Linked DNA regions of Homo sapiens. The protein of the gene in region 5 purifies or fractionates together with the protein of the main gene of each other region. This does not show direct contact. Each region holds a gene or a part of one and is shown on either strand. Other genes may lie near its edges. The genes, in order: FKBP14, MIA3, PIGS, KLK7, VNN2, FAR2 and APOD.

The links.
Region 1: the proteins of VNN2 (region 5) and FKBP14 purify together in Homo sapiens (affinity purification with mass spectrometry; 2 studies listed by BioGRID and IntAct, with this or other methods). This does not show direct contact.
Region 2: the proteins of VNN2 (region 5) and MIA3 purify together in Homo sapiens (affinity purification with mass spectrometry; 2 studies listed by BioGRID and IntAct, with this or other methods). This does not show direct contact.
Region 3: the proteins of VNN2 (region 5) and PIGS purify together in Homo sapiens (affinity purification with mass spectrometry; 2 studies listed by BioGRID and IntAct, with this or other methods). This does not show direct contact.
Region 4: the proteins of VNN2 (region 5) and KLK7 purify together in Homo sapiens (affinity purification with mass spectrometry; 2 studies listed by BioGRID and IntAct, with this or other methods). This does not show direct contact.
Region 6: the proteins of VNN2 (region 5) and FAR2 purify together in Homo sapiens (affinity purification with mass spectrometry; 2 studies listed by BioGRID and IntAct, with this or other methods). This does not show direct contact.
Region 7: the proteins of VNN2 (region 5) and APOD purify together in Homo sapiens (affinity purification with mass spectrometry; 2 studies listed by BioGRID and IntAct, with this or other methods). This does not show direct contact.

Annotation. Positions count from the first base shown.
Region 1 is NC_000007.14:30,019,750-30,024,293, forward strand, and holds part of FKBP14 (peptidyl-prolyl cis-trans isomerase FKBP14 precursor), read right to left. Parts: intron 3,068-4,544; coding exon 2,916-3,067; intron 556-2,915; exon of another isoform or gene 464-555; intron 1-463. UniProt on the Homo sapiens protein: PPIase which accelerates the folding of proteins during protein synthesis. Has a preference for substrates containing 4-hydroxylproline modifications, including type III collagen. May also target type VI and type X collagens.
Region 2 is NC_000001.11:222,627,821-222,632,364, reverse strand, and holds part of MIA3 (transport and Golgi organization protein 1 homolog isoform 1 precursor), read right to left. Parts: coding exon 1,976-4,544; intron 201-1,975; coding exon 39-200; intron 1-38.
Region 3 is NC_000017.11:28,554,525-28,559,068, reverse strand, and holds part of PIGS (GPI-anchor transamidase component PIGS), read left to right. Parts: intron 1-478; coding exon 479-593; intron 594-2,096; coding exon 2,097-2,242; intron 2,243-2,802; coding exon 2,803-2,903; intron 2,904-4,007; coding exon 4,008-4,218; intron 4,219-4,544. UniProt on the Homo sapiens protein: Component of the glycosylphosphatidylinositol-anchor (GPI-anchor) transamidase (GPI-T) complex that catalyzes the formation of the linkage between a proprotein and a GPI-anchor and participates in GPI anchored protein biosynthesis.
Region 4 is NC_000019.10:50,978,162-50,981,680, reverse strand, and holds part of KLK7 (kallikrein-7 isoform 1 preproprotein), read left to right. Parts: intron 1-1,193; coding exon 1,194-1,441; intron 1,442-1,756; coding exon 1,757-1,893; intron 1,894-3,519. UniProt on the Homo sapiens protein: May catalyze the degradation of intercellular cohesive structures in the cornified layer of the skin in the continuous shedding of cells from the skin surface. Specific for amino acid residues with aromatic side chains in the P1 position.
Region 5 is NC_000006.12:132,750,980-132,755,523, forward strand, and holds part of VNN2 (pantetheine hydrolase VNN2 isoform 1 precursor), read right to left. Parts: intron 2,513-4,544; exon of another isoform or gene 2,439-2,512; intron 1,771-2,438; coding exon 1,482-1,770; intron 540-1,481; coding exon 166-539; intron 1-165. UniProt on the Homo sapiens protein: Amidohydrolase that hydrolyzes specifically one of the carboamide linkages in D-pantetheine thus recycling pantothenic acid (vitamin B5) and releasing cysteamine. Involved in the thymus homing of bone marrow cells.
Region 6 is NC_000012.12:29,330,491-29,335,034, reverse strand, and holds part of FAR2 (fatty acyl-CoA reductase 2), read right to left. Parts: intron 2,436-4,544; coding exon 2,308-2,435; intron 2,191-2,307; coding exon of another isoform or gene 2,163-2,190; exon of another isoform or gene 1,404-2,162; coding exon 1,241-1,403; 3' UTR 1-1,240. UniProt on the Homo sapiens protein: Catalyzes the reduction of saturated but not unsaturated C16 or C18 fatty acyl-CoA to fatty alcohols (FAls). A lower activity can be observed with shorter fatty acyl-CoA substrates.
Region 7 is NC_000003.12:195,577,441-195,581,984, reverse strand, and holds part of APOD (apolipoprotein D precursor), read left to right. Parts: intron 1-2,489; 5' UTR 2,490-2,523; coding exon 2,524-2,646; intron 2,647-4,544. UniProt on the Homo sapiens protein: APOD occurs in the macromolecular complex with lecithin-cholesterol acyltransferase. It is probably involved in the transport and binding of bilin. Appears to be able to transport a variety of ligands in a number of different contexts.

The DNA.
Region 1 (4,544 bases), on a different chromosome or scaffold from region 5:
TACTTAGCATTAAACTTGACAAATAGTAAACTCTCAATACATGTTATTGAGGTATAATTTTCTCACAGGCTTTAAAAATAATGCAGGAAGGTTTAACAATTTCAGAAAGTTAGGAAACACTACCTCTGATATAGAACATTATATATATGTTGAAGACATTTCATGGGAGGGGAGAAATTAAAATGAATTTCTGAGAAGGGAAATTAAAAATCTTTAAAAGTGAAAAGAGCTTTGTTAAAATCCCAGGAACCTGAAACAAACAAACAAACAAACAAACACACCCATCTGTGGAGTATGGACAATTGTTTTTCTCAAACTTGTTTCCTTATAACTATATTTAACATACAGGTCTGTGTAAACATGTTAAATATTTCTTAGTCATCCTCCCCCCATCCCACATATTTCCATGAAAGAACATTCATAAATTCCAAAGAGAAGACTTATAAAGTGTGCTGAAGCTTACCATTTCAGATCTAGACAGAGATGTGACATGCGCTAGGTTGTTGATAAAACTGGTATCTTTCCAAAAGAGGCATGCAAGCATGTACTAAAAGACTACAAAATTAGTGTTAAATACAGATTAGAAAAATTAGTTTCATGGCATTCAGTTTGAAGGAAATGACTCAAATTTAGATCTCTACTTATTGTGAAGTAAACTTGAGTTAAATATAGTATGAGAAAGAGTAATGGACTAATACAACGTACAGTAGTCCCCACTGGGATATGTCCCAAGAATCCCATTAGATGCCTGAAACCATGGATAGTACCAAACCCCATACATACAATGCTTTTTCCTATACATGCATATCTGTGATAAAGTTTAATTTATAAAATAGTCATAGTAACAGATTAAAAATAATAAAATAGAACAATTACAACAACATATCATAATAAAAGTTATATGAATGCAATCTGTCTCTCATTCTCAAAATACCTTAATATTTTCAGACTGCAGTTGACCACAGGTAACTAAAACGGTAGAAAGTGAAACCACAGGTAAAGGGGAACTACTGTATGTAAATATTAAAGGTGAGACAATAAAGATAAAATGAAAACATTCTCAGCATCAGAAAAAATTTTCTAGATACTTGGTTTTCTTCTCTAAAGAGGATTATGACTAAAAGAAGAATTGAATTTGGTTAGTTAATCTTATCCTATGAACAAGATTTGTATAGATTTGTATATTTTGGAATATATAATGCTTGCCATATGGCATCTATTTTCCTTCTCAGGAAATGGGCTGTGAATCCTGACTCCTCACTTTTGTCAGTGGTTAACCTTAGACTTCAGGATGCTATGAAGTCTATATTTATACTATATCAGAGTAGTTGTCTGTCTGGTTCTGATGACTACTTAAACTTTTTTTTCTTCATTATGTAAGTAATACATGCTCATTGTAGAGCACATACTTGGATGATAAAACCAGAAATAAATATGATTCCCAGTATCACAGTCCATTTTTAACATTCTTATTTATTTCCTTATGATTAACTTTCTATGTATATGTACCTTTTCCTATATTTACTATCATATATACTATAGGTTTATTTTCTACTTTTATATATAATACTGTATCTCATGCATTTCAGATATAATTTTTAAACTCTTTGGAAATGCCATTTTAAATAACTGGGCCATATTTTATTTAGCTAAATTCTTACCAGTATACCACTTACGACAGTTCCAATTTTTTGCTTAGAAACAATGCAATTATGGACATCCCTGTTCACAAATTTTTTTCCTGATATCTAATTATTCCCTTAGGTTTGAAGGAATTATAGAATAAATGCATATAGACATCTTCAGACCTCTTTTTTTTTTTTTGAGATGGAGTTTGGCTCTGTCCCCCAGGCTGGAGTATAGTGGCACGTTCTTGGCTCATTGCAACCTCTGCCTCACATGTTCAAGCAATTCTCCTGCCTCAGCCTCCTAAGTAACTGGGATTATAGGTGCACTCCACTACGTTCAGCTAATTTTGTATTTTTAGTAGAGACAGGGTTTCACCATGTTGGCCACGTCGGTCTCAAACTCCTGACCTCAAGTGATCCACCCTCCTTGGCCTCCCAAAGTGCTGGGATTACAGGTGTGAGCCACCATGCCTGGCCCAGACCTCTTGATATATATCACAAAGCAGCTCTTTGGAAAGTTGCAGGGGTTCTCACTTGAACAGCAGGATATGTGTCTGCCCTGAAAAACTAGTACAAAAGCTGTCCGGACCAGCTAGCCAGCTTGCTTCTGCTTTGTGACACAGGGAGAATTAAATTCATTTCATGTCACTCTATGATTTTTTTTAAATACATTGTTAAAAACTTTATAAATAAATTTAAAAACGGGAATGAAAAGAACTCCCAGTTTGCTGTGGGAGACTTAATATTCATGAAGTACAACCCATATATAACCCACATCTAAAATGCATTCAATACTTTAATAATCTATATTTCACATGTTCAACTCATCCAAACACTTACGTTAATGGATCTTTCTCTCTGCATTGTTAAAGTAAATTGGTGAGTTTCAGTTTGGGAAGATGAGAACATTCTGAAGATGGATAGTGGTGATGGTTCCACAATAACATGAATGTATTTAATGCCACTGAACTGTGTACTTAAAAATGGTTCAAATGAAAAATTTTATGTATATTTTATCACAATTAAAACAACCCACCATATTTGTGAACAGTATTAATAGACCTCAATGTTCTTTTTTTATTGTTAGCATAGTTGCCCATTTAGACATTACGGCCTTAAACTGGCCATTTCAATTGATACTCAAGACATAATACAGTTGCTAAAGGAATACATACCCCCTATTAACTTCCAGGGGAAAAAAAAAAGTTATAGTGACTCTAACTTCTGTCTCCTAATCCAGAGAACAACTCTAGTGCTATAGTAAGAAAAATACAGAAATACTATTACCTTTTCCTTCTTTTCCATAGCCCAGAGCAGGAGGAATGATGAGCTTTCTCTTCTCTCCTACACACATTCCTTTCAAGCCCTGGTCCCAACCTTTGAGAGCCTCCAGGATGCCCAGGGTAAACCAAATGGGCTGACCATTGTTATGTTTGTGACTATGATAGAAATAAAACACATTAGAACTCCTTATTAACTCTAAAAAATTTTCTTTAGTGCATTTTCCCACCAGTAAGTGGTTAAGTTTATTAGTTTAAAAATTTATAAATACAGCAATTCTGTATTTGCACACATACACACACACCTCCAAGTCAAGTTTATAGGAATTCAATTCACTGCCCATCTTTCTTGATGCAAATTTCACATACTTGACTGGGCTTAAGAAAGACAGAGGAAATAATAAAAACAACAACCATTTGAACATTTGTTGTATACCAGGAATTATTCTAAATTTTATTTTATTTTTTGCCTCTTAACCCTTACAATAAGTCTATAATATAAGTACCATTACTACCCCATTGCACAGATGAGGAAACACAGGTTAAGTTCCAGTCTTTAAACCTAACTCCAAAGTTCAAGGTCTTAATCACAAAGTTATGTTGTCCCAGGAAGGCCACTAGGTTGCAGAACAAGGAGAAAATAATGGAAAAATGGCTGAGTTTGGGAAGGAGATTGAAAGGCTAAGGAGAATTTACTGCCAACATATGTGGGTCCATATGCACACAGATATGAAGAGTGAGAAGCACAGTGTCTTATATCCTGCCTACAAACTTGCCTTAGCTATGGCCTGCTGATGGCTCTGACGGGTAGAAAAGGCTGCTTTTCATCCCTAAATCCCCACTCAGACCCTAGCCCAGTTTCCTCCTCAGGGGTCTACAGTGGGGCTATATAGGAAAGTCTGGAAGAGTAGCCCCTCAAGGACTGGTGTGTTAGTCCATTTTCATACTGCTATGAAGAAATATTCAAGACTGGGTAACTTATAAAGAAAAGGAGGTTTAATGGACTCGCGGTTCCACATGGCTGGGGAGGTCTCACAATCATGGCGGAAGGCAAAGGAGGAGCAAAGGCACGTCTTACATGGTAGCAGGCAAGAATGAGTGTGCAGAGGAGCTGCCTTTTATAAAACCATCAGATCTCGTGAGACTTATTTACTATCACAAGGAGAACAGCATGGGAAAAACCTGCCCTCATGATTCGATTACCTCCCACCAGGTCCCTTCCACAACATGTGGGGATTATGGTAGCTACAATTTAAGATGAGAATTGGGTGGGGCCATAGCGGAACCCTATCAACTGGGGACGAGGGAAATAGAATGTCCTGGCTCATGAGTTGAAGAGAGTCTAGCCTAGGAAAACCAACCTGCCGAACTACATACAGGGAGGCTTAAGGGCTGAGTAATGCCTGATCCCTACCTAGCTCCCTTTCAGTGCAATAAGGAAAATATTCTATTCAAGGATATCTTGTAGGTGAGAAAAAGAAGTCACTGTACTACGCTTCATGAGTACCATGGTTACTAAATCTGGGTAATGCCATTTTTTCCTGTAATTTTGCCCAATGATCAAAGTAACAAAATGCCAACTGTAGAAAATTTGGGAAGGCTAGAAATGAAAAAAGAAGCAGGAAACATTCTACTA
Region 2 (4,544 bases), on a different chromosome or scaffold from region 5:
ATTTCTCCACTTTGTAGAAAAAAATTAGCAGGCTTTACCTGGGTCCAGGTCTTTCTCAGTATTTGGCTTCTGTGACACTTCTGAGGCATGAGTGTCCCCAATCACACGTTGGTCCAAGTGGGTGGGTTCTTCAGGAACCTGCACATTAAGTTCTGCTGTCTTCTCTCGTGAGAAATTATCTTCATGCAGTGGTTGCATCTCTAGGGTGAGAAGAATACACTGGGCTAGCACAGCTTGATGACACTACCTGTTAGGCTAATCCCACTGACCACACCAGGGCACCTCAACATTGACCTCCATGCATGGGCATCCCATGGAGCACAACTGGGCAGGGAAATAAGAGTTTCAGTTTCTTTTATTCCATTTAAAGGATGACTAATCTACATAATAAAATCTACAGAGGAGTATTTCATAAATAAATACATTTATGGTAGGGACTTCAGTAACATCTTTCCTTGGCAAATCAGCCTACACCCACACAAATAAATGTGCAAATGAGAATTCCACTCAAGAGCAGAAATGTGAAACATCTATTCTGCAGAGAAGTAACATGAACTCTTGCATACCCTAGCATGCCTTTCTCACAGAACTAGTACAGACAGGGACATTCCACGCCAAGGCAGCTTGCTGAGATGTCTTTCGAATACTTTCAAAGTACCTCTAAGAGTCAAACAAAGTGAAGCCATCTCCTCTCCTAAGAGGCTTAGGGGACAGTCCAATGTGATCCACAGCAAAGGTGAATTTCCTTGTAGCCTCATATTTTACCCTGAAAATTCATCTGAATATTGCCTTCTTATCCAAAATATATGTTTTAATTAAATGCAAAAAAGTTCTCCTCCCCCATTTCTTAGGAAAAATTAGCACTCTGGAGTAATACGTTTTCCTGTGGCTTCCTGTCCCCTTGGTACTCTCAATTCAGATACATCTGTCTGAAAAGCCTGGATATACCAGGTGCGGTAGCTCACACCTGTAATCCCAGTACTTTGGGAGGCCAAAGTAGGAGGGTCACTTGAGGCCAAGAGTTCAAGATCAACCTGGGCAACATACCAAGACCCTGTCTCTACAATAAATAAAAATTATTTGGGCACAGTGATGCATGCCTGTAGTCCTAGCCACTTAGGAGGCTGAGATGGGAGGTTCGCTTGGGCCTAGGAGTTGGAGGCTGCAATGAGTTATGATCATGCCACTGTACTCCAGCCTGGGTGACAGGGTGAGAGCCTGTCTTAAGAAAAAAAAAAAGAAAAGAAAAAAAGAAAGAGGAAGGAAGGAAGGAAGGGCAGGTGGGCAAAGGGAAAGAAAAGAAAAGAAAAGAAAGAGAAAAGCCTGGATGCAGAGAATAGAACAAGGAACTAGGAATCAGAATGCTTATGTCAGGATATTGGCTCGGGGTTAATTCAACTGAATGGCTTCCACGCATCAAGCACTGCATTCGAAGGCATCCCTGTCCCAATCTTGATTAATCTGCATGCAAGAACCTTACGGCCCAGGAGGGTTTAACTGGAGTAAGTGCTCCCAAGAAACAGGAAGAACAAGCCATCCACAAAAGATAAAATTGGGGAGAACGTAGGAATTTAGCCAAGGCATTGATCTAAAAGTTATACCAGTCAATCCATGGTTACAGAGCAGTTATCTGACGACTGAAAAATTGTGTTCAATAAAACCCTTTCATAATTTTACATGACATTTGTATTTTGTATATTACTTTCTGGTTTATATCTTTCTCTTTAGCTTTTTACAAAGTTTCCTTTTGAAAATGCTAACCAGTCTCAACTATTCTAAGGGAAACGGCAAGAAATTCTTCTCCATGCTCCAGCCTAAAAGAAAGATGGCAGGAAGGAACATGTGGACCTCCCTGTGTTGTCCCTCTCCTTTAGGCACATTGGAAACTGAACAGAGCTTCACAAGATAGGAGGCACCTCAGCGACCCACCCACCTGCTTCTCCAGCCCTGTTCTACAAGGCCATAGGCATCTCACCTTCCATTGCTCCACCCAAGCCTTCCTCTAGAGGTGGTGCCATCACCAGTGTGGCTGTCTCCTCTGCTGTGGAGTGCTTGTACCTGACAAAATAGATGAGGTCTTGAATGTCATCAAGCACTGCAGCCTCTTCAAATATGTTATTTTCGTTCATTCCCAGATCTCTATTTTCAGCCACACGAGTATCAAGCATTTTTTCTGCTATGCTCAGAATTTGTGACTCAGAAGCACGGAAGACCTTATCTAGGACTTTTTCCATATTATAGGGCAGGCTCTCCTGCTGCGCTGACTTCAGTTTTGATGACATTTCTTGTAGCAAGGCTTCCAGCTCATGGACATTAAAGTACTTCTGGAACCGCTGCAAAGACTGTTGTTCTTTAAAGAAGCTGCTTATGATAAGTAAGTCCTCCCTCTTGTCACTATGCCCTGGCTCTACACTTGTATGTGGAGTCCAGTGGAACGAGTCATCTTCAGGTTCTGCAGCAGCAGACCCCTGGCTTTCTGTGCCCATGTACTTCTCTGTGTTCTCATGGTCCTCTTTTGAGAGTTCTCCCTCAGGCTCCCCTGCAAGCCCTGAGGTCTTCAGATGTTCCTCAGGGTTGTCGTTCTTCAGATAATCAGAATCTTTATTCTGAAACACTTCACCTAATTCTGGAGTCTGAATTTTTATGCTGTCAGAAAAGTCACTTCGTTCAAATGGTCTCTGTGCTTTCTTATCTGCCAGAGGGCGTTCTTTTTCCACCATTGTATTTGGTTCCCTGCCTCCTGTGTTGACCCCTTTGGCAGCAGTCTCACTTGTTTTTTCGCTATCCAAAATCATACTAGTTTCTTGCTTGCTTTCTTCAATTTCTGGATCTGGATGAATGGTCCCTAAAACTGCTCTGTCAGGGACTTGCAGATTAACATCAAACTGCCTGCCCTGATTCCCAGGGTTTTTTTCTTTAGACCGTTTTGCATTTATAGCGTTTTCATCCTCTAGTAGTTCTTCAGAGGGATAATCATCCTCTTCTACTTTAGAAAGGAAAGCTGGTCCTCCTGTGCTGTCAGTTTGGTCTGTCTGTCCTACCTCTGTGCCCTGCATTGCCTTGTGATGAAAAAACTCTTCATCCAAGGAGTCCTCTTTGGCTTCTCCCTCAGAGAGCCTTATCTTCTCACTCATTTGCTTACTGGCTGTGGCAGCCACATCTCTTTCTTGTTGCCAGGGAAGATTTCTTCCCAGAATGGGAACCTCGTCTTCCAGTTCTCTGGGCAAATCAATCTCATCTGGAGAGGAGAATCTAGGTTGGTTTTGAGTTTTAAGAACTAATTCCTCTTTCAATTCCTCACGTTGATGCTCCACTGAAAGCGTGTGCAGTTTGGCCCCATTTACCAAAGCGTCTCCCTCCACACTGTCTCTGGATGCGTTAGGGTGGTCATCTCCCATGAGTGGTGCACTACCCAGGGATTCCTGTTGAATCTTTCTGTCATTCATTTGATTCCCTGCAGCTTTCTGTGCAGATTCACTCTCTGAGCCACCTTCCAAAATCTGCTCTCCAGGCTTTTCTTCGTGGAGCATTCCTTTTGAGATATGAATAGCTGCTCCTTTTAGGTCATTTTCTGTATCATCATAAGCTGATTTTAATGTGTCTTTACCCTTTTCAGCAGCTGGCATAGAGTTGAGGTTATTGCTGTGAACAGAACTGTGCACAGTCATGCCTTCTTGATTTTCATCCTCTAATTCTGTCTTATCTTGTACCAGGCCCCTCTTGGATTCCTGAACTCCCCTCCCTTTTCCTTTAATGTGATGTTCTGCGTTTACTTCTTTGTCATTATTTGTTTTAGGAATGTCTACAATAAAAAGACCATCATCTACATTGTCAGGGTCACTATAATCTGTTGCTGACTGTGGTTTCCCCTGTTTGCTATCTGGGACTAATGCATCATCATCATCTTCTTTTTCTTCCTCTGAACTAGAGCTCTCTAAATCCATCGTATCTCTTGTTTCTTCACCTCCTGTGACAATAGAGAAGATAGTGTCCCCCCAGGTTGTTAGTATATTTTTATCATCATTTTTGATGCCAGGGGGCACAGTTAGCTGAACCTTGTCCTCTTCATTTGAATTCTGCTCTTTATCTGTTGGATATTTCTCAACGCCAGACTTTGCTGGAGTTTTCATATCTTCCCCATCTGTAAAGGTAAGTAATGGCAACTCATCAAAGTCTTCTTGGTTCTCCTCATCTTCCTTTCCAACTGCATAATACTCAGTATCCAATTCCTCATCAAAATCATCTTCTAATGAAGTAACGAGTCTGGTTGTCTCATCATCAGATACAAGTGCATCAGCTGTTGAGCCAAATTTGGTTTTCAAGTCTAGAGTCATTTCTTTTTTCAAAAGTTTATAGGCATCAATCTTATCCTGTTCATTTGAGACCTGAGAACTATTGCTGGTTTTGTTGTTTTCACTTTCTGGCACTTTTAGTTTATCTTGCAGCATTTCTTCAAAAGATTCAAATGAAGCCTGCTCTCCCTGAGCATGATTTGCTTGGCTGTTTGCATGGGAGTGGTGCTTCTGAGTTGTAAACTGTTCCTG
Region 3 (4,544 bases), on a different chromosome or scaffold from region 5:
GGTGGAGTTTGCAGTGAGCCAAGATTGTGCCACTGCACTCCAGCCTGGCAACAGAGTGAGACTCCATCTCAAAAAAAAAAGATGTGAAGAATGTAGCTTTCTGTATCACGCTGTCTCCTTGTAGGGAAAACACGTGGGAGAAATTTTTATCAGGTCTTCCTAGTGGGAGTAATTGCTTCTGAATAACTGGCTTGATTTGATCTTGTAGACACTGAATTATGCTGTTCTTTGTTTCTCTCTTTGTGTAGACTGTTAGGAAACCTGGTAAAATACGTGATTTTTAAAGCACGTATTTAGTTTATTCAGTTTACCCTTGGCTTTGCTATTTTCTTCTGCAATTATTTTCTCTCAGCCCTGATTTTGTCTCTTATATGTTGCCTTGTCCTGATTGTGTCTTTTTTAAGGCACCTCAAATCTTTTTTGGGAGAAAGTAGAATATAAATCTAAACAAAGTAACCACTCCCTGTTTGCTCTACAGATTCTTTACTATGCAATGTTGGGGGTGAATCCCCGCTTTGACTCAGCTTCCTCCAGCTACTATTTGGACATGCACAGCCTCCCCCATGTCATCAACCCAGTGGAGTCCCGGCTGGGTGAGCACCTAAGGATGAGGGTCTTTCTTTTCTGCCAGGCTAGGGAGGGACCCTGACGGCTCAGCTGGGTAGGGGACAGGAGTTGGAGGTGGATTATATACAGTGATGGTTCCCAGGTTGGGTTGGTCCGAGGAGACTGTGGAGATTGAGGCTCCTTTTTTTCTTTTTTTGAGACAAGGCCTTGCTCTGTTGCCCAGTCTAAAGTGCAGTGGCACAGTCATAGCTCACTGCAGCCTCCAACTCCTGGACTCAAGTGGTCTTCCCACCTCAGCCTCTCGAGTAGCTAGAACTATAGGTATGTGCCACTACACTTGGCTAATTTTCAAAATTTTTTTTAGAGACAGGATCTCATTATGTTGCCCATGCTGGTCTTGAACTCCCCTCAAGTGATCTTCCCACCCCAGCCCCCTAAAATGCTGGGATTATAGGCGTGAGCCACTATGCCTGAGCCCTAGGTTCCTTTTTCATGATGCTCTGTTGATATCTCCATCTTCACACCTATCATATCCAAAAGCATTTATTAAACGTGATTCCTAGCACTTTTTACAAATGAATGACTAGGCTGGGTCTATCTCCCTAAAAGCCATCTAGGAGAGAGGCTGTCACACACATAGGAAAGACAACAGCAAAAGTACTTGAGGGCAGAATTTGAATTGACAGTTCTGCTGATTGAGGTTGAATAACCTTGAAGCTAGTATTAGAGTTTTTCATTTTTCGGGTGGAAACTAGGAAGAGGAGGTGTGACTAAGAACTGTAACACAGGCAAACCAAAGTGAGTATATCTAATTGTGGAATCTCAGATACCAGAGGCAGGCTAGTGTGGCCCAAGGATTGTGAGGGGGTGGCATGTGAGGCCTTAGAAAATTCCTCCGTTCATTTATTCATTCAGCAAACATTGACTGAGGGACTACCTTATGACAGTGCTGAGTAGAGAAAAGAAGGGCATTTCAGGCAAAGGGAACTGTGAGCTTAGATGCAGACAAGTGAGAGAGCTTAGGCATTCAGGAAGCTCAGAGTAGTTTAGTGTGGCTGAAATGTGAGTGAGTGACCAAAGATGAAGCCGGTTAGGCAGGCAGGAGCCAGGTCATAAAGGACCATGTTAAGGAGTTTGAACTTTAACCTGATATGGGTGGCTAGTGATTGAGGGATATTAAGCAGGGAACTGACATAAGGTCAGATTTCTGGTTTGCATAAAACTATCTGTAGTAATATGGGTACATTGTGGGAGTGGCCAAGAAAGCTGTCGTAGACAGTCAAGGGGCCTTTGAGGAGGGAGAATTCGGGGGTGTTTTGGAGCTAAGGACTATGTTTCCATCGGTATGGCACATCTCGGGAGAACATTCTGAAGCCCTTTACTAGAGACACCCTGGACAGGAGGATATCCTAATGATTGTTAGTTGGGGAATCAGTCCCAGAGTGAGTGACCAGCAAGTTAGAGGCCGACCTGGGACTAAGGTCCAGGTCCAGCATGTTTTGATATTCTGCTTTCCCTTTATACCACAGGATCCAGTGCTGCCTCCTTGTACCCTGTGCTCAACTTTCTACTCTACGTGCCTGAGCTTGCACACTCACCGCTGTACATTCAGGACAAGGATGGCGCTCCAGTGGCCACCAATGCCTTCCATAGTCCCCGCTGGGGTGGCATTATGGTAATAGTCACACTACGCAGACCCCAGAGCCCATGCTTCTGGGACAGGCAGGTGTCCCTGAAACTGTGTTCCTTCTGTTTTCCTTCTGGTGTCCTCCATGGCCCAGCCTGTGGGAGGGGCAGGCACCAGGAAGGTGAGGGTGCTATGTGCTCATGCCCCTCTTCTGCCGGCCCCACTTTTGTTTCCGCCAGTGTTTTCTATACTGTGACCCTTTGCCCTTACCTAGGATCATTCTGTGTCCATCTTAGATCTTCGCCTTATTTGTGGGAGTCTTGCAAGGTTGGGAGCCTTGTCTCCCTTGTTAGACTGGAAGTTTCTCATGGGGGAGAATTCTAAAATGGGATAAGAAAAAAATATGTTCTACAGGACTTTCAAGGGGGTAATTGGGATAATGTATTTAATGCTCTCCGTAGTAGGTACTCAAAAAATATTAGCTATACCATGAGGTTTATAGCTTCTAAAGAGCACAGAATATGTTTTCCTTTTCTCTCCAGAGTGCCTAGGGCAGAGCTGTGCAAGGGCCTGGTATGATGTTGTGGCAATCTCATTCCCCCTTTCAGGTATATAATGTTGACTCCAAAACCTATAATGCCTCAGTGCTGCCAGTGAGAGTCGAGGTGGACATGGTGCGAGTGATGGAGGTGTTCCTGGCACAGTTGCGGTGAGGTCCTGGATGATCCACTTGGGGACATAGTCTCCTTGGCTGTAGAGGGGAGTTGCAAAGTGGAATCAAGTCTTACCTGGCAGGGATATCTTGGCTGTGCCTAGAGCCCCAGGGAAACCAAGAAAAGTTTCTAAGGATCCCATCATCCTTCTAAGAAGGACTAGTAGGTGACAAAATCATTTATTTTTTTTTTTGAGACGGAGTCTTGCTCTGTTGCCCAGGCCGGAGTGCAGTGGTGCCATTTTGGCTCACTGCAACCTCCACCTCCCGGGTTCAAGCAATTCTCTGCCTCAGCCTCCCGAGTAGCTGGGACTACAGGTGCCCGCCACCACAACTGGCTAATTTTTTGTAATTTTAGTAGAAACGGGGTTTCACCATCTTGGCCAGGCTGGTCTTGAACTCCTGACCTCGTGATCCACCCGCTTAGGCCTCCCAAAGTGCTGGGATTACAGGCGTGAGCCACTGTGCCCAGCCAGCAAAACCAGTTTTAAGAAAAATAGACTCATGAATGTCAGGTCCATGGAGTGTGATTAGGGCTGCTTAAGAAAATAGCTGTTAATTCTTATGCTGCCTGATGGATTGAGAGTGGCTGCCTGAGGCTCTGTGTTGAGGATTCTAAGGCTGTATCTGGGCTCATTAGGAAAGAGTATTCTTCTGATTGACTAGCAGTGTCTCTCACGGATGCAGGCTTAGAGAAGCACAGCACATGTGCCTTGGCAAAGGCAGTCCTGGATCATCCCTTAATGCTAAGTCCCATTGGCCCCATTTGTTCAAAGAGAGGGTAGAAAAGGTGAAAGGATTAAACTGAGTTGGTGTTATCAGAAGTATTTTAGCCATGGAACCTTTTTTTAAAAAACAAGATCTTGGAAATCTAATGTAGAAACAGGTAAAAGCAGAAACACCTGTTGAAGCAGCGTTTGGGGCCAACTTGTTTGGTGTTGCCCCTTATGCCCCCAAGACCCTGAGGTACTTCCCTTTAACCCCTATGGTTCTGGGTAAGATTGAAAATCACTGGCTCAGGACAGATATTTGAGAAATCTTAGCCATGATCTCCCGCCTTGTGGTCTCAGCCACCTTGATCTTACTCCGATGTTCCTACAGGTTGCTCTTTGGGATTGCTCAGCCCCAGCTGCCTCCAAAATGCCTGCTTTCAGGGCCTACGAGTGAAGGGCTAATGACCTGGGAGCTAGACCGGCTGCTCTGGGCTCGGTCAGTGGAGAACCTGGCCACAGCCACCACCACCCTTACCTCCCTGGCGCAGCTTCTGGGCAAGATCAGCAACATTGTCATTAAGGACGACGTGGCATCTGAGGTAAGCAGGCAGGGGATGGATTCTGCAGCTTGGGACTGGAGTAGCCAGAGAGGGCCAGAGTGTGGTGAGACCAGAGAGCCTGTGAGGTCCATGGTATGTGTGGGCTTGCCATCTTTAGTGTCCCAGCCTTCCTCTAGACGGCAGTACCAGCCCCCAAGCAGGAGTGCAGATGAGAGTGCGAGGTTTCAAGCTGACCCTAGGAAAATAAACCATATCCCTGTAGAAAGACTTCCATAGATCCTGGATGAACTCCAGGCATCTTCCTTGGTAGATGGAAGGCACAGTAAGGCCCAGCACCCTTTCCACCAATGCCTAGGACTTACTGG
Region 4 (3,519 bases), on a different chromosome or scaffold from region 5:
GCTCTATTCTCCTCTCTCTGGGTCTCTGTCCTCCTCTCTCTGGGCCTCTGTACCCCCTCTCCCTGGGGCTCTGTCCCCCTCTCTCCCTGGCTCTCTGTCTCCCTCTCTCTGGGTCTCTGTCCCCCTCTCTCTGGATCTCTGTTCCCCTCTCTCTGTGTCTCTGTCCCCCATTCTCTCTAGGTCTCTGTTCCCCCTCCTCTCTCTCTGGGTCTCTGTCCCTCTCTCTCTGGTCTCTGTCCCCCTCTCTCTCTGGATCTCTGTCCCCCTCTCCCTGGGCCTCTGTACCCCCTCTCCCTGGGGCTCTGTCCCCCTCTCTCTGGGTCTCTGTCTGCCTTTCTCTCTGGATCTCTGTTCCCCTCTGTGTCTCTGTCCCCTTCTCTCTCCGGGTCTCTGTTCCCCCTCCTCTCTTTCTGGGTCTCTGTCCCTCTCTCTCTGGGTCTCTGTCCCCCTCTCTCTCTGGTCTCTGTTCCCCCTCCTCTCTCTCTGGTCTCTGTCCCTCTCTCTCTGGGTCTCTGTCACCCTCTCTCTCTGGGTCTCTGTCACCCTCTCTCTCTGGTCTCTGTTCCCCCTCCTCTCTCTGTGGGTCTCTGTCCCTCTCTCTCTGGGTCTCTGTTCCCCTCTCTCTCTGGTCTCTGTTCCCCCTCCTCTCTCTCTGGATCTCTGTCCCCCTCTCCCTGGGGCTCTGTCCCCCTCTCTCCCTGGCTCTCTGTCTTCCTCTCTCTGGGGCTCTGTCCCCCTCTCTCTCTGGTCTCTGTTCCCCTCTCTCTGGGTCTCTGTCCCTCTCTCTCTGGGTCTCTGTCCCTCTCTCTCTGGATCTCTGTCCCCCTCTCTCTCTGGGTCTCTGTTCCCCTCTCTCTGGGTCTCTGTCCCCTCTCCTCTCTCTGTGTCTCTCTCCCCCCTCCTCTCTCTGTGTCTCTGTCCCCCCTCCTATCTCTGTGTCTCTCTCCCCCCTCCTCTCTCTGGGTCTCTGTCCCCCCCTCTCTGGGTCTCTGTCTCCCTCTCTCTGGGGCTCTGTCCCCCTCTCTCTCTGGATCTCTGTTCCCCTCTCTCTGGGTCTCTGTCTCCCCTCCTCTCTCTGTGTCTCTGTCCCCCCTCCTCTCTCTGGGTCTCTGTCCCCACCCCGTCCCCCAGGTCTTTGCACACCCTCTCTGTCACAGTGTCTCTTCTGAATCTGTGAATGTCACTCCTCGCAGTGAGTACACCGTGCACCTGGGCAGTGATACGCTGGGCGACAGGAGAGCTCAGAGGATCAAGGCCTCGAAGTCATTCCGCCACCCCGGCTACTCCACACAGACCCATGTTAATGACCTCATGCTCGTGAAGCTCAATAGCCAGGCCAGGCTGTCATCCATGGTGAAGAAAGTCAGGCTGCCCTCCCGCTGCGAACCCCCTGGAACCACCTGTACTGTCTCCGGCTGGGGCACTACCACGAGCCCAGATGGTAGGTGGCCTCAGTGACCCAGGAGTGCAGGCCCCAGCCCTCCTCCCTCAGACCCAGGAGTCCAGGCCCCCAGCCCCTCCTCCCTCAGACCCAGGAGTCCAGGCCTCAGCCCCTCCTCCCTCAGACCCAGGAGTCCAGGCCCCCAGCCCCTCCTCCCTCAGACCCGGGAGTCCAGACCCCAGCCCCTCCTCCCTCAGACCCAGCAGTCCTGGGCCCCAGACCCTCCTCCCTCGGAACCAGGAGCCTGAACAACAGCCCTTCTGGTCCTCGCCCCCATCCTCTCTGACTGACAGCTCTCCCTGCTCCTCCCTGCAGTGACCTTTCCCTCTGACCTCATGTGCGTGGATGTCAAGCTCATCTCCCCCCAGGACTGCACGAAGGTTTACAAGGACTTACTGGAAAATTCCATGCTGTGCGCTGGCATCCCCGACTCCAAGAAAAACGCCTGCAATGTGAGACCCTCCCCCCCAATTCCTCCCCAGTCCTGGGTACCCTGTCTGCATGCCCCAGGGACAGAGCTTGACCCGAGTGACTGGGTACCAAGCCCGGCCTTGCCCTCCCCCCAGGCCTGGCCTCCTCAGCTTTTTCCACCTCATTCTCTGCCTAGGTCAGGGGTGGGAGTTTACTTAGGGGCCAATGTGGCCCTGGGGATGAGACAGAGAGTTTAATAGGGGTGAGAAAGTGGGGGTGGGACCAGGGAAGGAGACTGAGGTGCTGGCCTCAGGCCCAAACCTTAAGGGGGCACCAAAAACCTCAGTGATTGAGATAAATCATAATGCAATATTTAAAAATAAAAATAAAAACTCATGCAGAAGTCCATGATGGACAAAATGTCACATTTTAAATAAAGAGCAGGTGGATCTTACTGAATTTTCCCTTGCCGTAAGTACTAGCGTGGCTCAGCACAGCGCTGTACTGGCACTGTCTTCATTTAAAATGTGGATACCATGCCCATCATGCAGTTTTATGTATTACATTTGATTTCGTTAAGTACTGCATTGAAGTATTGTGTATTGCAGTTACTGAGATTTTGTGCCTGAAGCTGATGACTCACTCACCTGACCCTGGCCCTGGTCCCGGGGAAAACACTCTTTCTCTCCACCTCCTCTCTGTTCCCTCTTTCTGGCCTTTTGTCATCCCCTCTGTTTCTGAACAGTCTTCCCACATCTCTCTTTGTGACATAATTTCATTTCATTCTTTTCCTCTTTGTTTTTTCTCTGTGTTGAGCTAGCTTGCTCTCCCTCCCTTGTTCTCTCTCCATGCCCTCCTCTCTGCTCTCTGTCTTCTCCCTCTTTCTCTTGCTTCTCTCTCTCTCCTCCCCTCCCTCTCTCCTCTCCCTGCCCCCCTGCTCTCTCTTTTTTCCTCTCTCTCTGTCTCCTCTCTGGCCCTCTCCTCTTTCTCTCTCTCCCCCACTTCTCTGTCTCTCTTCATCTCTCTCCCTCATCTCTCCTTGCCCCCTCCTTTTTACTGTCTCTCTCTTTCTCTTTCTTCTATCTCTCTCCTCTCCCTGCCGCTCCCCCATCTCTGTCTTTCTTTCTCTCTCTTTATTCTCCTCCTCTCTTCCAGTCTCTCTCTCCTCTCCCCACCCCCACCCCATCTCTCTCCCCACACCTTCCCCCCCTTTCTCTTTGTCTCTCTCTTCTCCCTCTTTCTTCTCCACCCCCATCTCTCTCTCTCTTCTCTTCCCACACCCTCCCCATCTCCCTCATCTCTTTGTCTGTCTCTCTTCTCCCTCCTTCTTTTCCACCCCCATCTCTCTGTCTCTCTCTCTCCCCATACCCTTTCCCTCTTCCTCATCTCTCTTTGTCTCTCTCTCCTTTCCCTCTTTCTTCTCCACCTCCAACTCTCTCTGTCTCTCCACACCCATCCTCCTTGCTCACATCTGCACCTTCAGCTGTCAGGGGATGTGGGATGGTGAGTGTTAGGGATAGAGGAGATGGGAGAGAGATGACTGTCCTAGAGAATAGGGTGTTCCCCTTCTCCCCTGGTGAGGGCCAGTTTCATGAATGTGCAAGCTCTGCACGGACACAGAGCCCCACACTCAGAAGGGTCTCAAACTTAGTCTAATGCATTCCTGC
Region 5 (4,544 bases):
ACGTGCATAAATGCACGTGTGTGTGTGTGTGTTGTGTGTGTGTGTGTTGCCATCAATGCATGGAGTCAAGCCAAGGAAAAGCACCTGGTTTTCTGGAACAAATATAAAAAGTTAACCTGGAATTTACCTTTCACTTGAATGCCCTTTCATTTGAACTGAAATTACCTGCCAGTACTCTCTTCTCCTTCGGCCATGTAATCCTGTAAAAGCTCCTAGAACGTATACTTCATTCTCTTCTTTTTGTAACATTCTGTAGCTTAAATGACAGCAAAGCTCCTTTTGACAGACTGTAAGGTTTCCTGCATTTTCAAAAAGTTCTGTGAAGTTGAACCCATCCCTGGAAATAAATCCCCTGAAAGTGTTTTTCTGTACTGGAAATGGTTTGATGGTGGTGGCGTAGGCATTCCAATTAACAGCTGTTGGGTAGGCAAGCGAGGATAGGGGATGTGAATCCACCTCTGAAAGGAGAAGTTTTCCCAACTCTGTCTTCATGTCATAATGATACACTTTGGGACCATTTGGTGCATAAATACCACTTCCTGTGAATGAAAGACAAGTCTTCTAAAAACAACACCACACACAAAAAAACCAAAACTGCCAATTTCCCCATCAGAATTGGGCATGTGATCACGCCACCATATTAGTCACGATGAGAGAGGATACATGCTTCTAATTGCACTGAACACCTAACTACTTCTATTCTCTAATGGAAGAGATTAAAATAAACATTCCTTGGTCTCATTTCAATTAAACCTTAAATATAATAGCATTATTTATTAGCATTATGGAAAATTAAACCAACTACAAAAATCTTTGTAGTCAGGAGTTCCTGAAAGGTGGGGAAAGGGAATAAAAATTCTCCCCTATTCCTCATTGTGGTGGTTTTCAAATATATCCAAAAATTCCTTAAAATTCTTCTTTCTGGTGGGAGGATCTAATTCCTTTCCCCTTGAAGAGGGGCTGGACTTAGTGACTCACTTCCAATGAATAGAACATGGCAGAAGTGATGGTGGGTAACTAGTCATAAATAGCAATGTGGCTTCTTTCCTTTTCTCTCTTGTCCCCTCTCATTAATTGCTCTAGAGGAAGACAGCAGCCATGTCACGAGGATATGCCATGCAGCCATAGGAGGAGACAAAGGGCAAGATATAGAGGCTTCCATGGCCACTGAGGAAAGTAGTAGCTGGGTAGCATTTGGCAAATTACTTGCACTCTCTGTATGTCAATTTTCTCATCTGCAAAATTGGGATGACACTATCTATCTCATATAATTATTGTAATAATTAAATGAATAATACACATAAAGGTCTTAGTATAACCATAGCTTATAATCAAGTGCTAGCTTTTTTTTTCTATTGTGAAACTATGACAAACACAGTAAGAATTTCCAATAAGCAAAAAATTAATACAAGTCATAACTGAGGCATTCATTTCTCTGCACTTAAAAATATAAGATGAAACCTAACCTGGTCATGAATTACCTGTCATATTTAGGCTGACATGATGTGTGTTGGCCACAAGAAGATTAACTCCCATTCCCATTGCCCAAGCTGAATGGAATTCAATAGCTGTCAAAAGGGGCAAAACGTTCATCCAAGCTGTGGGAAACAGTATGGTGTCCACATGGAAATCTTTCACCAGGGTAACACCAGGATCATAGAAGAATATATCAAAGCACGTGAAAATGCCAAACCTTCCAAATGCGGTGTTGAAAGTCACCAACTCCGGCTTTTCAGGGACATTAAACTGAGGCTCAGAGTACAGGTGGTACTACAACAAATGGATAGGAGAAAACCAGTAAAACCTTATTTGTTGAAGAAATGACTCATAAAAACCCTCTAAGTTGGTAACAGATTTGGCTATGGTCAACTGCAGGGAATCTCCTAGGAAGCGGATAAATCTGGCAATTGGAAGTAAATTTCTAAGGAAAATGTGGAGGAATATGTAACATACGTCCATAGCATCTCTCATCTCCTCTCTCTCCCTTCTCTCTCTTTCCCTCTCTCTCAGTTAAGAGCCAAATACCCCCCCATAAACCCCAAAGTCCGTAAGCTTTTTTTAAATTTAATTTAATTTTATTTTTCTGAGACGGAGCCTCGCTCTATCACCCAGGCTGGAGTGCAGTGGCATGATTTCGGCTCACTGCAATCTCCACCTCCTGAGTTCAAGCGAGTAGCTGGGATTACAGGCACGTGCCACTATGCCCGGCTAATTTTTTCGTATTTTTAGTAGAGTCGGGGTTTCACCGTGTCAGCCAGGATGATCTCAATCTCCTGACCTCATGATCCACCCACCTGGGCCTCCCAAAGTGCTGGGATTACAGGAATGAACCACAGCACCTGGCCCTATAAGCTTCTTAAAAGTTAAAAAACATGCATTATTCTTCTTTGAATCCTTGGTGCCTAGAAACGTAATATTAATAGATGCATAATAAATACCTGTAAGTCAGGTGAGAGATGTCATCTCTCTCTTTAGTGTCCCATCCAAAGTAATCTCAGTGACTCTTGCCCACCTTTCAAAATTACCATAGAAATGTATTTAATTTCCCGATTCCTTCTAGGTAAACTAAAAAAAAACTTAGTCTAATATAATAAATGGAATCAACAGTTAATAAAATGGTCTGCAGTGTAGAAAAAATATCTAAAAAATAGAAAAGAAATTGGGCTTTACTACTATTTTAAGAATTGACAGGCCAGGCAAGGTGGCTCATGCCTGTAATCCAAGCACTTTGGGAGGCCAAGGCAGGCAGATAACTTGAGGCCAGGAGCTCAAGACCAGCCTGGCCAACATGGAGAAACCCCATCTCTACTAAAAAATCCAAAAATTAGCCGGGTGTGGTGGTATGCACCTGTAATCCCAGCTACTCAGGAGGCTGAGGCAGGAGAATGGGTTGAACCTGGGAGTCAGAGGTTGCAGTGAGCTGAGATCGTGCCATTGCACTCCAGCCGGGATGACAGAGCCAGACTCTGCCTAAAAAAAAAAAAAAAAAAAAAAAAAAAGGAATTGATCGACAAAGGTATTCTCATTAGGTTCACATATGTCAGAGGTCATGGGTTACAAACGGTCCCTGAGGTACCCTCAGGGAAGAGTGAGAGCCTTTCAACTTAGACAGGGTGACTGCAGGTTCCTTGCTAGTTTGTCCACATTCAGTGCACTGTGCCATCCTGCATATTTACAGAATGGCAGAATAGCTTCAAATGATTACTGCAAATAAACTGCATTGAAAGATAATACAAATAATGCAAACAATCTCCCAAGCAAGAAAATGGAAGCACTGACCTTTCTATTTTTACTATGAGACACATTTTAAGAAGAAAGTGAAATGCAGTGATATATATGAAAAGAAGCTGTCAAAATCCACAAAATTATGAAGAAAGCATTTTGAAATTGTTGCACTTTATAAATACACACACAAAAATACATATATTGAGGACTTATGTTAACGATTTTTTCCAATAGGGGTCCATGATCGAAATCATTTGAAAACCATTGGTTTAACATCCCTCCTCTTAATTAATATTTATATTTTAACTGAGACTGCCAGGAGATAATTTCTCCACTCCAAAGATTCTGAGGCTACAGTTTAAGATGCTTACAAAATATCTGGGTGTGGAGAAGGGACATTCATACTGCCTGTACATCACACATATCCATTTAAAAGGCCAGGCTTCTTTCTCTACCTAGTTTAGTATAAAATTATGACTTAAAGGTTATTTGATTCCTTTTTTCAATTCAGAATTTAAAGTAAACATTTTATGGTTTGATCTTAAATCTATAAGATGGTAATTAAATTAGCTGGTGTAGAAAATAAGGTATTTTGTGGTTTGATAGCAAATTAACTTATGCAAAGCTGATTCATACAATTTTGAAACATCTTTCTACCATTTCAATATTAAATAGTATTTAGATTATGGCTGTGCTCAGTGGCTCATGCCTCTAATCTCAGCATTTTGGGAGGCCAAGGTGGGAGGACTGCTTGAGGTGAAGAGTTCAAAGACAGCCTGGGCAATGTAGTGAGACTCTGTTTCCAAAAAAATATTTAAAAATTAGCATGGTGGCACATGCCTACAGTCTCAGCTACTTGGGAGGCTGAGGCAGGAGGATCACTAGAGCCCAGGAGTTTGAGGTTAACAGTGAGCCATGATGGCTCCACTGCACTCCAGCCTGGGCAACAGTGAGACCCTGTCTCTAAAAAAATATAAAATTATTGAAACAGTGCCCAGATTATAGTCACCTTAGTATCTTTTTTTATGTTAAAATTATTTGTTTTATATGTGCAAAAAGTTTATCTCAATCCTGGACCATCATGCTACTTTTTTTTTTTTTTAACAGTTCTCTGCCTACATGTTTTTCTGAGTAGTTTTTTACAACGTGTCATTTTCTTTTTTCTTTTTCTTTTTTTTCTTTTTTTTTTTTTGAGAGTCTCCCTCTGTCACCCAGGCTGGAGTGCAGTGACACAATCTCGGCTCACTGCAGCCTCCACCTCCTGGGTTCAAGCAAGTCTCCTGCTTCAGCTCCCACATAGCTGGGACTACAGGCATGTG
Region 6 (4,544 bases), on a different chromosome or scaffold from region 5:
TAACATGAAGAAATGCTGCAATCCAACATGTACTCATCTCTCAAATATGAGGAAAGTTGGTGTAACAGTTACATTATTATTACTATAGGAATTGGAGAATATGTATAGTTTTCATTAGTTTGTATTATACACAAAATTTTTTAAGAAAACAAAACCTATTTTCTAAACTTAGAATCCCTTAGTGAAGTCTATTCACTTTTCTGCTGTGTGTTGTACAGTTAACATTGTGCAATTGGAATGACCAAGATACTAGTAAATCCTTTGGTGATCACATAAGTGTAATCTTCCCCACTTTATACCAGAAGACTAAAGCTACAGTTTAAAAGTTCATTTGAAGTTTTGTTTTGCTCAGTGGCAAAGATCAAATGGGACCATCCCTCTCCCTGTTGACCACTCTAATTGAGTCCTGAGTGGAAAAAGCTTAAATATAAAGGGTTTGGCAACTTTTAGAAGAAGGAGACTCTTGAAAGAAGGTTACCAGGAAAATTGAGGATTAAAAAGATTTAGAAATAATAGCTATCAAATTCGAATTTGAGAATATTAATTTTGACTTAAAAGCATAATACACGAGTCCCCAATGCAAATATGCTTAATCCCTCACTCTATACATACTTATTTACACTTCTTGTTCCTTTTTAAGAAGTGAATGTAGTTAAGAAAAATGTTAAATGTAAACCTACTTTTCTGATTCCCCCACCCCTCAACCAGGACTCCAGGGTATAACATAGAAAGAAAGAGAGACATTTTCAGTGGGGAATTACTTCTCTTACTGCATTTTTGAGGATATTGAGACCATTCTCCTTTTACTCATCTTGATTTTAAATTTTTCTTTTGGGTACCCAGAATGGTTCCAAGGTTAGTACTGCTTGAGCTCATTTCAGCTTCTGCCATGCATCTTTCCATATTTACTGAGTTTAAATGAATCATCTCAGAGAGAAAAGAAAAACTAAATATAGAAAAGTGGGAGTACTTTCACGTTTAATACGCAAGGGCATAAAATAGAATGTTAGGAAACAATTTGGATTTTTTTCCCTAAAATATAGGTGACTATGGGCTAGTTTACAACTTTCCTTCTCTCACTGAAATAAAAATACATAGTTAAGGAATAGGGACGAATACATAACAGGTGACATTTGACAGTTTGGGCATATTCCTTGTTACTTTCTAATCTTGAGAATCACAGTTTGCTGTTTTAGAGGTATCTGAGAGGTTCCAGATAAAAAGCGATGGCTAAATGCTCTTAAACTTTGAGCGTGCTGGATGCTCTAAAGTAGGAGAGGAATTTATAACAGAAGCTTACAATGAAGAACCAGACATTCCGAGCCATCTGAGATCTTGCAATGAGAAGGCGCCAGGCGATAAGGAAGAGGGCAGTATTAAAGAGGTAGTGAATATTTCGGAGCCTAGGGAACAGACAGACATAACCAAAGTTAAAACTACCAGATACCCAACCACATTATCTGAAGATAAATATGTGTTTTCCTGGATATGACTGGCAAGTATTTATGAAGTGCTCAGAGTATTTGATATAACTTGGCCAATTGGTTTCTGCGTCTTTCATTTCCACAGCATTCTTGCTGAATAGTCAGATTTCTACCATATTTCCCTAATTTCTCTTATACCTCTCTCCACTTGAAACTATTTACAAGCATGACTAGCATAATCTTGTAAATATACTTTGGTCATGTTACCACATCATAAATCTTCACTGGTTCTTGTTCATTAGAAGGTAAATTCTAAAGTTCTTGGCTTGCTATTCAAGGTTCCTCCTTCCTGTTTTGCAAGCTACTTTTTTATCCTTATCATCTCTGCACTACAGATCCTCTGCTTCTACCAGGATTATACCAGAGTGCTAGAATTCCTTGTCCCTCAGGGATTACGACTGAAAGAAATTTAAGAAAGTTGAAAAAATTGAGGAGTGACTTTTTTCTAGGTTAAATAGCATAATCAGGTCTCCTGCCTGTTGGGTATTTATATCCCATTATGACAGAGTGTGGTAGAAGAAACAAATTTGGGTTCAAATCTGGCTCTTAGACTTACTATGCAATTACCATGGGCAAGTTATTTGCTGTGTTTAAATCTAGATATCTGCCTCATAAAAATGGGGTAACAAAAGTAATACTTGCCTCATAGAGGTGTGGTGAAGTCTAAATGAAACTGTGTTACAGGGTAGAGTATGGAGTGCAGGACCTGTAATGTAGTAAATGCTCAAGAAATGTTCATTCTCCTCTGCACAAATGTTATGTCTGGTATAAAGTCGATGCACAGTAGGTGCTCAATAAATATTAACTGACTGATTATACTTACCTTTTTAAGCGTTGCTTTGCTTTTGGGATCCCAGCCATATCCTCTTTCAATAAGTATTTTTTAACTCCCAAAACATAATTTTCAATGTATTCCAACCAGTTCAACTGGCGCACGTCAAAGTTGAATACCTGAGAGGCAAGAGAGATTATAGATTGCCAGAATTGCAGTGCTGGACAGTCACTTTGTCCACTTGAGGTTTCTTCTACATAGACGAGTGACCTTCAATTTGGGAGACATAGGTTGGACCCTCTCCAAAGGAGAGATTATTTGAGTCATTATTTCAAAGGTACTGATAATATGGATTACTATTTACATAGGAATATTTAAACATGGATCAAACACAAACACTTCACATTTCTTGTGAGGGAGATTTAAAGGAAATAGTATTACATAGTCTGGTGAAAACTTATGGTTGGCTTGGTATATATTTCAGCTAACCGAGGAGTAATTATTTTTAAAAGTGATAGAATAATATGTTAGTGACCAAAACATAAATGATGCAACTTTCCCTTTCCTCTTAAATTTTGGTGTTATCCCTTTGTTCTACCATCCTTTCCTACAGCATTACCATTTCATTATGCAGATTAAACTTTGGGAAGCAAAGCCTTAAGGAATAAGTTACCAGAATTTATATTTAAGAAGAGAGTGATTGGTAGTGAAAGAAAAAAGGAGTGATCACAACATGGGGGAGGAGTAGGGAAGAAGGAGAAGGAAGAGATTGATCTGTTTAGGGAGAGAAGTTGTGCCACATAGAAGACAGATACAGAGAGTGACAATAAAGAAAAATGATTAAAAAATTTTTAAGGTATCTTTGAGGAAGAGAAAAGAAAAACACTTGCATAACCAAAAATGTATTCTTTTTTTGGTTTGTTATGGAAAAGCTGGAGTAAAGATTTGAATTGCATTCCATAGATTTTATTTTTTGTGTACTTTGAAAATGATGCTGAGCTGACACAGGATCAGGAGGTGGCCCAGATTTATATGGATTACAAATGGAGATAGGATGAGTTAGGAAGAGAAACCTGATAGGTCATTCTTGAGCCATCCAGGGATCTTTTCAAAATCTCCATATAAAGGGCCTAATTGGAGAAAGAAAGGGAGGGAAATGATCTTCAAATATATTAGAAAAAATAGTTTTGATTGAATATAAAGAACTTAGGGCACTAAAACTTGTTAGTAGAAAGAGTGTCAAGAAGATTCTGGTATCATCTCTGGAAATATTTCAAGTATTAGGTATTCTTGGAGAGTTTGGTATGACCCTGTTATCAAATAAAAGATTGCATCAGTGAGTGGATTTGGTTCAATAGAGTTTTATTTCATGTATTTGGAGAGAATGGCCTGGAAAATGGACTTGTGCTAGCATTTAAAAAGTCTAATATTTATAAATCTTAGCAAGTGGAGGGTGTGTTTAAGGTGCTTTTGTCCTTCCAATTGGGCACTCTTCTCTCTCCTTGGACATACAGCACTCTCAGATCACTTTTTGTCTATTCATCCCTGGACATTAAAAAAAAAAAAAAGCCTATCTTTAGTGGAGAGTTTCACGTACAGTGAAAGAAAGTTGCTCGTTACTCTTAACTTACTTAACTTCTGGTGAGGCCTCACTAGGAAGGACTTTAATAGCTAAAATGGCTTAATTCAAATAAATGATATTCCTAGAACAACAAGAATGATGTTCCTTTGAATGGCACAAAGTAGACATTCAATAAATACTTGCTATTAATGAATTATAGAATTTAGGTCAAATTAATTTAAATATTAATTTTGAACACCAAAAGTGTTTCTTTTTTGTTACACAACAATTTATTCTATTTAGTCTGTATATAAGCTTTACATGAATATGACCAAAGTAAACTCTTAGTTTCCTTTTTTCAGACAATCAGTCTTTGATCGAGGCTTAGATGGTACCAAATAAAAGGCATATATTATCAAAACCAAAAAGCCAATCACCACTAAAGGTCAAGTTTGTTAACTTTAAAATGGCTACACGATTTTCTGAGAATCTCTTGGGTTTAATTCATAAATTGCATCTTTCCTCCAGAGTCTATATTTAGCTCTTTTTCTCTTCAGGAAATATTACACTTCTAAAGAATGTAATTGAATTTGACATCTTAAAGATTTAGTAGTTCTCTAAGGCTACTCGATTCTTTCTCCTTTATATGCAAATTAAATGTTATATTTTAATCACAGAAAACCATCTTAGAACTCGGAGGAAAGTAACTAAATATTATTATCCCTAT
Region 7 (4,544 bases), on a different chromosome or scaffold from region 5:
GTTGGTCAGGCTGGTCTTGAACTCCCAACCTCAGGTGCTCCACCTGCCTCGGCCTCCCATGGGATTACAGGCTTGAGCCACCGCACCTGGCATCACAAGGAGTTTTAACCACAGGAATAAAACTAATGTAACCAAGAGGCATCTTTGGAAGAGGGTCAGTCAAAGGGGTTGTTCTGAAATCCTCCTACTGAGGTAAAGAATCTGTTTCAGCTCACAAGAGAGCATTTTGTCAGAGTAAGATGTAGAACTGACTTTTGTTGCAGTGTCATGTGGTGGTGAGACTCATCAGGTCACAGAGGTGGGGGGTTATTGAAAGGCCCTATGGCGGTGCACAGAAGAAGCAGATTCGGGGTGCTGCAGACAGGAGAGGGGGAGATGGAGCTCGAGTCCCAGCTCTCTGCCCCTTCCAGGCCCCAGCTTCCCCATCTGTACACCTTGGAAGTAGAGCTAGAAAGATGACCTCTAAGGTCCTATCCAGTGTGGGGACCTTGTGGAATGTGCATAGTGTGTGGCCAGTCTTTGAGGTTTGATCCTCTGGGCCAGGCTTTCAGCTTGGGCCTACTAAGTAGAATTCAAGATCTCTTTAAAATGGATGCAAATTTGTGTGGGTTTAGGCTGCATTTCTATAAATTCATCATCCCCCAAAAGGTTAAAAGACAGGTTTTGTTTATACAGTGGTGGAGCCGATGAGAAACGGAACCTCAGAGACCAGGGAAAGTGGCCCTGTGGCAGACTTGCTCAAAGGGGCCTCAGCAACCATCTCCCCCTGCAGCAACCCCAGCTGGCAAGCTGCCACTCCTTACATAACTGTTCTTTGGAAAACCAGGCAACAAAACCTCCAGGGGAAAAAAAGCTATTGATTATTAAAGGGTATTTAGAGGTTTAGAGACTCACAATAAAGCAGTTATAATTATTCCTGTAATGACACATCCTTCGAAATGCTCAGATCTGAGAACATTTTGCTTGCATTGCATCAGTCATCATCATTACAGGGAGAAATGCAGAGAGCTGGAAATAGCTCGTGTGCAAGCTACAGGCAAGGAGTCACAAGGAAAGGAGCAAATTGACAGCGAGTCAGTGAAGGAAACAGGGGAGCTTCCAATGCCCAGAACCTGCACACAGTCCTGCAGCCTCTGTCTCCCTGCCTTGCTGCCCCGCTTCAAAGCCAGCTTCTGCTGCCAAAGGACTCTTGGGGTTGAAATGCTTGTTGCACAGTTACACATCAGCTGACAGTCCTTCTCTGATTTAATGAACTTCATCTATGAAAAATACCCTCAACAGGCCGGGTGCGGTGGCTCAGGCCTGTAATCCCAGCACTTTGGGAGGCCAAGGCGGGTGGATCCCCTGAGGTCAGGAGTTTGAGACCAGCATGGCCAACATGGTGAAACCCTGTCTCTACTAAAAATACCAAAATTAGCCGGGAGTTGTGGTGGACACCTGTAATCCCAGCTACTCAGGAGTCTGAGGCAGGAGAATCACTTGAACCCGGGAGACAGAGGTTGCAGTGAGCCGAGATTGTGCCACTGCACTCCAGCCTGGGTGACAGAGTGAGACTCCATCTCAAAACAAAACAAAACAAAACAAAAACCCTCAACAGAATGTCAAAAAAAAAAAAAGAAGAAAGAAAGAAGAAAAGAAAAGAAAGAAGAAACCTGGGAAATACCATCATCTTTCTGCTTTTGATAATAACAATAACTAGCATTTATTGAGCATTTACTCTGTATCAGACACTCCTCTAAGTACTCTCTGTATATTATCTCATTTAATTCTCACAAAAATTCATGAGCTAGGAATGATAATTATTCCCATTTACTAGACAAAGAAGCTAAGGCATAAATTGGACACAGTTATACTTAGTATGGGGCAGAGTCACAATTTGAACCTGGCTGGGGTGACCCTGGAGCCCCCAGCAGGCCGCTCCCTGTTAAGGTTTCCAAGCGCACTCTTGGGCTGGTAGAACAGCCAGCAAGACGAGGGCAGGGGGAGGGATGGTGTCAGAGAGGCATCTCCCTGAAGAATCTCAGAGGACACTAAGTGTTGGGCAACATTTGGTTTGGTTTCGTGTCTTTCGTGGTTCACTTGGAGGCTTTAATCCCCCACTTTACATAGCCCTCTCCACGCTGTTTCTGTTCATTTGACAAGTATCTACTGAGCCGACACTTTGAGGTCCGTGGGTGATTCTGAGGAGAACTAGACACAGTGCCCATCCTGGGAGATGCATAATTAGGTGGGACAGGGGTGAAAATCAATCCAACAAACCAGAATACCAGGCAGAGAGCGCCCTCGTGGAGGTGCAGAGGCTCTGAGGAAGGCCTCACAGCAACAAGGACAGGCAGGTGTTCCCCTGCAGGATGAGGGTTCACATGGGCTGGGGAGAGAAGAGGAGGGACCGCCCACAGAGGGGACCATGGGCACAGCACTCTTACTTCATGATTGTGTGGCCTTAGAAGGCTCAGAATGACAACCCCAGCTGCTTTGCGTTCCCGCAGCTCCAGGTCCCTTCTCCAGCCACCCAGCCCCAAGATGGTGATGCTGCTGCTGCTGCTTTCCGCACTGGCTGGCCTCTTCGGTGCGGCAGAGGGACAAGCATTTCATCTTGGGAAGTGCCCCAATCCTCCGGTGCAGGAGAATTTTGACGTGAATAAGGTAAAAGGCGAACCTCCCGTTTGTTTTGCTGCCTCCGCTGTGAATAAGCGTTCTACAAGGTTCAATGTAATTATGCTGCTTTAATTTCCACTGCACACCTTGGGACAAGTATTTATCTTATTTGGGGTTTCCCCAAAGCAGACATCTGCTGAGATAAAGACTGCAGGCAGAGAGGTTTGGGATGATCCCGGGACGCACGAGAGCAGGTGGGAAGGTGAGTCGGAGACAGCACAGAAGCAATAAAGGGTGCGTTCCTGAGCTGTCGCCCTGGGCCGTCAGGGTCAGTCACACTGGGCACCCTCTGAGGACACGTGGAGCATGCCCCTCCGATTGTCCCACAGCTGCTGCCAGCAGGTCATGGGAGCATCCGTGGCTCTAGCTGAGCCCCCTGGCAGAGGAGAGACACAGGGTCTCAGGTGGGAGGCTGGCAGTGTCTGGGAATTGCCTACCGTGGCTGCGGTGAACTCAGAGGTGGGCTGAGGGGAACAGGACCAGGGAACCATAGTAGCTGCTACAGAGCTATTATCCTTGTTCTACAGATGCAGCATCGGAATCTCCCTCCCCAGCTCACGCAGCTGGTAAATGCAAGTAGGATTCAAAACCAGGCTTCTCAGCAGTGCAGGGCACCCAAAGGTCACTCAAACAGGGCTCAGGAAAGCCCAAAATTCTCCAGGGGGCTTTCTTGGTATCTGCACCAAAATGTCATCAATACAACGAGCTCCTCCATAGATGGTCTTTCTTCCTGGGGTTTAGCGGGAGGGGAAGGAAGAGGGCGGCAGAAAGAGGCAGCTATTGGAGGACAGGACTCACAGGCTCCCACTGTTGCTACTCAAGCCTGGAATCTCACCCTTAAGACTTCCTCTCCTTAGGAGAAGGTTTGGATCTCTTTTAAGAATGGCAACAGTAACATCGAAGTTGTTATCATACACTCGCACCTCAAGGTGAATGAGTGTTGGGACCTCTGAGGGGACGCTGGGTGGGAGAAGGAGCACCATCCATGGGATCAGGAGATACAGGTGTGGTAGGAAGAGGCCATAGAGTACACTAACGTCTACACTGACTTGCTCCACTTACAGGCTGATCCCTTTATTCAGGTAACTCTGATAGACCACAGAGAGGCTTTAAAGAAAACATCCAAGGAATCTGAGTTATACTTTCGCTTTTGGATACAAATCCCAAAGCACTTTGGAAATGATAACTGATCTGTATTTATAGAAGTCCTTTGAGAATTAAAGCAGGATTTAAAAAATAGCAGCTTTATTGAGATATAATTTGTATAGCACGTAATTCACTTGTTTAAAGTAGCTTTTCACTTTCCATTGTTGTTAGTATCATCACAGAGTTACGCAACCATCACCACCACCATCGATTTAGAACATTTCACTGTTCCGAAAAGGAACCTCATACCCATTCACGGAGTCTCCATCTCCCCTCCAACCCTTCCAGCCCCAGGCAACCACTAATCTACTTTCTGTCTCCGAATTTGCCTATTCTGCATATTTGATAAAAATGAAATCATACTATATGTGGTCTTTTGTGACTGGTTTACTGAACGTTTTCAAGGTTCATCCACGTTGTAGCATGTATCAATACTATATCCCCTTTTATTGCCAAATAATATTCTTGTAGGAAATCGTTATAGGAAATCAATTGACTGTATATGTGAGAGTTTATTTTTGCACTCTCAGTTCTATTGATCTATATGTCTATACTTATGCCAGTACCACACAGTGTTGATTACTATAGCTTTGTAGTAATCAAAGCCTTGAGGTAAGCTTTGAAATAAGAACACATGTGTCCTCCAACTTTGTTCTTCTGGTTATTCCGTGTCCCTTACATTTTTATATGAATTTTAGGATCAGCGTGTCAATTTCTGCAAATAATCCAATTGGAATTTG